Homo sapiens: one gene and its partner. The protein of the gene in region 2 purifies or fractionates together with the protein of the main gene of each other region. This does not show direct contact. Each region holds a gene or a part of one and is shown on either strand. Other genes may lie near its edges.

Evidence for each region. Proteins that work in one complex are often made in the same cells at the same time.
Region 1: the proteins of TMEM270 (region 2) and LDAF1 purify together in Homo sapiens (affinity purification with mass spectrometry; one large-scale study listed by BioGRID and IntAct). This does not show direct contact.

What each region holds. Positions count from the first base shown.
Region 1 is NC_000016.10:21,168,674-21,172,173, reverse strand, and holds part of LDAF1 (lipid droplet assembly factor 1), read right to left. Parts: intron 1,738-3,500; coding exon 1,569-1,737; intron 1-1,568. UniProt on the Homo sapiens protein: Plays an important role in the formation of lipid droplets (LD) which are storage organelles at the center of lipid and energy homeostasis. In association with BSCL2/seipin, defines the sites of LD formation in the endoplasmic reticulum.
Region 2 is NC_000007.14:73,859,680-73,863,958, reverse strand, and holds the start of TMEM270 (transmembrane protein 270), read right to left. Parts: upstream 2,801-4,279; 5' UTR 2,765-2,800; coding exon 2,693-2,764; intron 2,410-2,692; exon of another isoform or gene 2,368-2,409; intron 1-2,367.

The DNA of each region.
Region 1 (3,500 bases), on a different chromosome or scaffold from region 2:
GTCCGGCCTCTTTTTTTTTTTTTTTAAAGAGATGGAGGGAATCTCGCTATGTTGCCCAGAGTGGTCTTGAACTCCTGGTCTCAAAAGATCCAAAGTCTGTATTTTGATAAAGAAAGTAAGATTTATACACACTTGGAGCTGGGTGCAGTGGCTCACACCTGTAATCCCAGCACTTTGGGAGGCCGAGGTGGGCAGATCACTTGAGGTCGGGAGCTCAAGACCATCCTGGCCAACATGGCGAAACCCTATCTCTACCAAAAATACAAAAATTAGTCGGGCATGGTGGGGCATGCCTGTAATCCCAACTACTTGGGAGGCTGAGGCAGGAGAATTTCTTGAACCTGGGTGGCAGAGGTTGCAGTGAGTTGAGATCATGCCACTGTATTCCAGGCTGGGCGACAGAGTAAGATTCCATCTAGAAAAAAAAAAAAGATTTAAATACACTCAGGTTCAAGAACCACTATTCTAGAGGCTTTGCACATGCTGTTCCCCTGTCCAAAAGGCCCTTCCTTGCCCACCCTGAGGCAAAGTTGTTATGCATCCTTAAAGTCTTGTCTGCTGTAAAGCTTTGCATGGTACCACCAAAATGTAATGGCTCTCTCCTTTCTCTATAAATTTCCTTTCTTATGGTACTCATTCATTCCTCCATCCATTCATTCATGCATTCACCCATCTATCTATCAACATTTACTCAAAAACCACTCTGCCAGGCTGTATTTGGCTCATCCACTGACCATGCCTACTTTCTCCTTCAAGTGTAAACTGCCTTGTCCCTGGGGCAAATAAACAGCCCTGGGTGCTCTTAGCTCTGGGAAGCCACGGAATGGACCAGAAGTGATCACCTGACCCACTGGCCACCATCTCTTTGGCCACTTGCCTGGGGTGTGTGATCTGATTTGAAAAGTCAAAGTGAGCAAATCAGATTTGCTTTCCCAGTAATTTTAACTTAGGAATACAGGGAGAAGTTGACTGTTGGTAGTGGAACTTCAGGAGGAAGGATGAAGGTGGTCTCCAGTACCTAGCGAGGCATCTGGCATGCAGTAGGTGCCCAATAACTCACTGTGGAATGAATGGCCTCTCTGCTTAATAATAATAGCTAGCATTCATTGAGAAGCTACTCTGTGACATGTATTGTGTATTGTGCTAAGGACTTTATGGAGCCATAAGTTTCAATCTTCACAACAACCTTTTGAGATTGTATTATTATATCTGCATTTTACATATTAAGAATTTAAGGCTCAGAGAGGTAAACCACTTGCCCCAAATCACAGTGGTGGAGGTGGGATTTGAATGCAGGCTCCAGAGTCTATGTTTTACCTACTCTGATAAGTTGCCTTGCTTGATGTGATTTTGACAAGAATGGCAGACAACCAGGCATGGTAGCCCATGGCCATAATCCCAGCACTTTGGCAGGCCGACGTGGGAGGATCACTTGAGCCCAGGAGTTTGAGACCAGCCTGGGCAACATAACAAGACCCCGCCCCTTAAAAAAATTTTTAAATGGCCCCAAAAGTATTTTTCTCCCAATTGAATTATTTTCTAAAGGGGTGAATGACGGAACAGGCTACCTTCCAATATTATGACCCCCAGCAGAGCAGCCAGGGTGGTAAGCACCACGATGAGCAGGAAGAATCCAACAGGAACGGCCGACATGACAATGAACACCAGCAAGGTGAAGGCCAGAAACGGATGGCTGTCCAAGTACTGACCCACTGGAGACTTCATAAAGGCCACCACCTGTAGGCAAAGGACAAAGAGCCAGGGATAAGTAACACATCGGAACCCCAGGTTGAATGAATCTGCCCAAGCTGTGGGAATTACAAGGCAGAAGTCGTAAAGCCAGAAGGCTTATGCATTAACAAGTCACTACAGGCCGGGTGCAGTGGCTCATGTCTGTAATCCCAACACTTTGGGAGGCCAAGGCGAGCGGATCACCTGAGGTTGGGAGCTTGAGACCAGCCTGACCAACATGATGAAACCCCCGTCTCTACTAAAAATACAAAATTAGCCAGGCACGGTGGTGTGTGCCTGTAATCCTAGCTACTGGGGAGGCTGAGGCAGGAGAATTGCTTGAACCTGGGAGACAGAGGTTGCAGTGAGCCAAGGTTGCACCATTGCACTCCAGCCTGGGAGGCAGAGGTTGCAGTGAGCCAAGGTCACACCATTGCACGCCAGCCTGGGAGACAGAGCAAGACTCCATCTCAAAAATGATAATAAGAATAACAAGAGCGAAACTCCGTCTCAAAAAAAAAAAAAAAGTCACTACAACAAGACTTCTCCCAAGACATGAGTCACCCAGGCAGCTATCTTAGGCAGCTGTGGAGAGGTGGCAAGTCTGAGGTCCCCACCCAAGGTCAAGCCTTGTGAAAGGAGGAAAGACCCAGTCATGGCTCTCCTGCCAAACACACTCTTGAGAAGACCTCTTCGGCATAAAGGTGCATTGATGTAAGGTACATACCATCTGCCTCCTACTTTACAGCTGAGGTTCTCATAGTTGAAGCCACTCAGACACAAATAGGCTTAGCTACTTGGATCATCTAGGAGTTTGTTAGAAATACAGAATCTGGCTGGGCGTGGTGGCTCACATCTGTAATCCCAGCATTATGGGAAGTCGAGGCAGGAAGATTGCTTGAGGCCAGGAGTTTGAGACCAGCCTGGACAACACAGCAAGATTCCATCTCTACAAAAAATTTAAAAACTAGCTTGGCATAGCAGCACATACCCACAGTCCTAGCTACTTGGGAGGCTGAGGTGGGAGGATCACTGGAGCCCAGGAGTTTGAGGTTGCAGTGAACTATGGATTGCACCACTGCATTCCAGCCTGGGCAACAGAGGGAGATCTTGTCTCCAGAAAAAGGGGAAAAAAAAAGGAAATGCAGAATCTCAGGCCCTGATGAATCAGACTGCCTTTTAAACAAGATTCCCCAGGTGTCGTGCATACACATTAAAGTTTGAGAAGCAATGAACTAAGTCACTTGTCTAGAGTCGCACAGCCTCCAAGTTGCAAAATCTCAGCATTAAAAGCTAATCACTTGTCTATTATTAAGCATTAAAAGCATTATTATTATTAAAAGCATTATTAAAGTGATTAGCATTAAAAGCTAATCACTTGTCTATTATTATTAAAAGTATTATTACTATTAAAAGCATTATAATTATAATTATAATATAATAATTATATATGTTTATAATTATATATAATATAATATATTATATTATATATACTATAAATATAAATATTTAAATATATAAATATAAATAAATATAAATATATAAATATAAATATATAATATAAATTATAATTATAAATATAAAATATAAAAATATTTATAATTATATAAAATTAAATTATATTTAATTTTATATAAAAATATAATTATATTTATAAAAATATAAATATAAAAATATTTATAATTATAATATATAAAATAAAAATATAATATAATATTAAAAATATATATATAATTATATATAAAAATATAATTGTAATGTAATATAAA
Region 2 (4,279 bases):
CTGAAGGAGGTTTCATGGCTATTATTACCATGTTACGATCCCCCACCCCAATCCTGTGGGCTTTGAACCCAGGTCACTTGTCTTCTTCCAAGTAGCTGGGCTTTGCCTCTGTACCAGTTGTCCCCTGGCATCAGGAGGGCTGCTGGGGCAAAGGACAATGCCATTAGGGGCAGGGAGGCGTGAGAGACATGGGGCAGGGGTCACATAATTCACGACAGACCTAATGAGAAGGGTGAAGGAGAGAGATCCAGAAAGACTTCCAGATTTCCAGCCGGACATGGTGGCTCACACCTGTAATCCCAGCACTCTGGGAGGCCGAAGCAGACGGATCACCTGAGGTCAAGATTTCGAGACCAGCCTGGTCAACCTGGTGAAACCCCATCTCTACTAAAAATACAAAAATTAGCTGGGCATGATGGTGCATGCCTGTAATCCCAGCTACTCGGGAGGCTGAGGCAGGAGAATTGCTTGAACCCAGGAGGCGGAGGTTGCAGTTTGCCCAGATCGTGCCACTGCACTCCAGCCTGGGTAACAGAGTGAGACTCCATCTCAAAAAAAAAAAAAAAGAATTCCAGATTTCTGATCTGGGTGGTGAGTTGGACAACGGTGTCTCCCATTCACTGAGATGAAGCTGCAGGACTGGGGTGAGGTGGGGGAAAGCTGTTCTTGAGTCCTGGAGACCCTTCATCAGAGCTGGAAAGCCCCCAGCCCTTGAGTGACACCAATCCACCCACCTGGACCCCCCATCCCCGTGTCCACAGGCCCCACCATCTGAGATTGGCTGCAAGACCCCCCACTCACGGGCTGGATTTGCAGAGCTTGGGACGTGGAGGGTGGAGCTATGCTGAGACCAAAGGGTCCAGCAGGGAGAAGAATTAGGGTAGAGCTAGGAAATAGGACCTCCCAGGTTATGGTGCTGAGACCAGGGAGGAGGGAAACCTATGATATCCCACATGATCCCACAAGATCATTTCTATAGGAGAGGAAACGGGCTCAGAGTGGTGAAGTGATTTGCCCAAATTCACACAGCTAGAGGGTAAAACAGCCAAGATGCAAATCTTTTTTTTTTTTTTTTTTTTTTTTTTTCTGAGACAGGGTTTTGCTCTTGTTGCCCAGGGTTGCCCAGGCTGGAGTGCAATGGTGGGATCTCGGCTCACCGCAACCTCCGCCTCCCAGGTTCAAGCGATTCTCCTGCCTCAGCCTCTTGAGTAGCTGGGATTACAGGCATGCACCACCACGCGTGGCTAATTTTGTATTTTTAGTAGAGACAAGGTTTCTTCATGTTAGTCAGGCTGGTCTGGAACTCCTGACCTCAGGTGATCTGCCCGCCTCGGCCTCCCAAAGTGCTGGGATTACAGGTGTGAGCCACAGCTCCCGGTCCCAAGATGCAAATCTAATGGTGTCTGTCTTTCTCAACTGCCCCCTGTTATATGATCTTGGCTGACTGCAGCCTTGGCCTCCCAGGCTCAATCTATACTCCCACCTCGGCCTCCTAAGTGTGACTGAGTTGTGACCCCGACCACAAGCATGTGTATGTTTAAAAGAGATGAATGGGCCAGGTGCGGTGGCTCACACCTGTAATCCCAGAACTTTGGGAGGCCGAGGTGGGTGGATTACGAGGTCAGGAGTTTGAGACCAGCCTGGCCAATGCGGTGAAACCCTGTCTCTACTAAAGATACAAAAAATTAGCTGGGCGTGGTGGCGCACGCCTGTAATCCCAGCTACTTGGAAGGCTGAGGCAGGAGAATTGCTTGAACCTGGAGGTGGAAGTTGCAGTGAGCCGAGATCGCACCATTACACTGCAGCCTGCGCGACAGGGCAAGACTGCATCTGAAAAAAAAAAAAAGAGAGAGAGATGAATGAGCCAGGCGCAGTGGCTTATGTCTGTAATCCCAGCACTTTGGGGAGCTGAGGCGGGCAGATCACAAGGTCAGGAGATCGAGACCATCCTGGCTAACAGGGTCTCTACTAAAAATACAAAAAAAAAAAAAAATTAGCCAGGGATGATGGCACGTGCCTGTAGTCCCAGCTACTTGGGAGGCTGAGGCAGAAGAACTGCTTGAACCCAGGAGGCAGAGGTTGCAGTGAGCCGAGATCGCACCACTGCACTCCAGCCTGGGCAACAGAGCGAGACTCTGTCTCAAAAAAAAGAAAAAATGAATGGGAAAAACAATGATTCACCCATAGGAGTGACCCTCAATAGAGAAAATGCTGCCAGGTGCGGTGGCTCACACCTATAATCCCAGCACCTCAGGAAGCTGAGGTAGGAGGATCATGTGAGGCCAAGAGTTGGAGACCCGCCTGGGCAACGTAGTGAGACACCATCTCTACAAAATACAAAAATTAGTCAGGCGTGGTGGTGCACACCTATAGTCCCGGCTACTTGGAGGCTGAGGGGGGAGGATTGCTTGAGACCGGGAGTTGGAGGCTGCAACGAGCTGAGCCGGCACCACTGCGCTCCAGGCTGGGCGACAGAGCGAGACCCTGTCTCTAAATAAAGAAAAGAAAAGAAAATGTCAGCACTGTAGTTTGGAGTGGGGCTTCTGGGAGATGTCAGATTATTCTGGAAGGCAGGCAGCCACCTCGTTCCACTGGATGGGACAGGCAGGGCTTGGGCCCGGCAGCTCTGAGGTGGCTCTGTGAAGGGCCTGGTGTGTGGTCCCCACCCCACTTACCCCCAGCCCCCACTCACCAGCACTGAGAGCCTCGTAACCTGCAACAGGATCCCCAAAAGGCTGGATCTGACTGGAGGAAGGGCCTCCATGTCTGGCCTCCCCCACCTACTCCAGCTGGGAGAAGCAGGGTGACCTCACAGATGCCACAGGGTGGGGACCAAGTTACCATGGGGACCCGGTTGCCGCCAGTGACCCACTGCCTTTACCTGGCTCCTGCCGCTCCACTGCTTCCTCTGAAACCTCAGTCCACGTCTGAGCCCAACACGGCCAAGGAGGTCTTAGAGCAAAGCTTCCTTCGGGTCGGATTTCCCCAGATCTTGGAACAGGAATCAAGTGCCGCCTAGGAACGGGGTTCATGCCTGGATTCCCAATGCTTTGGGAGGCCAAGGTAGGAGGATCGCTTGAGGCCAGGAGTTTGAGACCAGCATGGGCAACATAGCAAGACCCTGTCTTACAAAAAAACAAAAAAAGAAAAAAATTAACCAGCCTTGGTCATGCACACCTGTAGTCCCAACTACTCAGGAGTCTAAAGTGGGAGAATCGCTTGAGCCCAGGAGATAGAAGTTGCAGTGAGCCAGGATCACTCAAGCCTGGGTGACAGAGCAAGACCCTATCTCTAAACAAAGAAAAAAAATTGAAGGGTGATGAGTTTATTTGGGGAGTGGGCCCTGCAAGCATCCATAGGAAGTCAGAAAGTGAGGCAAGGGGCCAGGCACAGTGGCTCACACCTGTAATCCCAGCACTTTGGAAGGCCGAGGCAGGCAGATCACGAGGTCAGGAGTTTGAGACCTGTTGGGAACAGGCCCCCAAAATCTGGCCATAAACTGGCCCCAAAACTGGCCATAAACAAAATCTCTGCAGCACTGTGACATGTTCGTGATGGCCATGACACCCACGGTGGAAGGTTGTGGGTTTACCGGAATGAGGGCAAGGAACACCTGGCCCACCCAGGGCGGAAAACTGCTTAAAGGCGTTCTTAAACCACAAACAAGAGCATGAGTGATCTGTGCCTTAAGGACATGCTCCTGCTGCAGATAACTAGCCAAACACATCCCTTTATTTGGGCCCAATCCCTTTGTTTCCCATAAGGGATACTTCTATGGGAATCTAATCTAATCTATAGTTAATCTAATATCTATAGAAACAATGCTAATGACTGGCTTGCTGTTAATAAATACGTGGGTAAATCTCCGTTTGAGGCTCTCAGCTCTGAAGGCTGTGAGACCCCCTGATTTCCCACTTCACACCTCTTTATTTCTCTGTGTGTGTGTGTGTGTGTGTGTGTGTGTGTGTGTGTGTTTAATTCCTCTAGTGCTGCTGGGTTAGGGTCTCCCCAGCCAAGCTGGTCTCAGCAGAGACCAGCCTGACCAACATGGTGAAACCCCGTCTCTACTAAAAATACAAAAAAAAAAAAAAATTGGCCTGGCATGGTGGCGTGCACCTATAATCTCAGCTGCTCAGGAGGCTGAGGCAGGAGAATTGCTTGAACCCAGAAGGCAGAGGTTGCAGTGAGCTGAGATCATGCCACTGTACTCCAGCCTGGGCAAGAGAGTGAGACTCTGTGATAAAAAGAGGGAAGGGGAGGGGAGGGGAGGGGAGGGGGA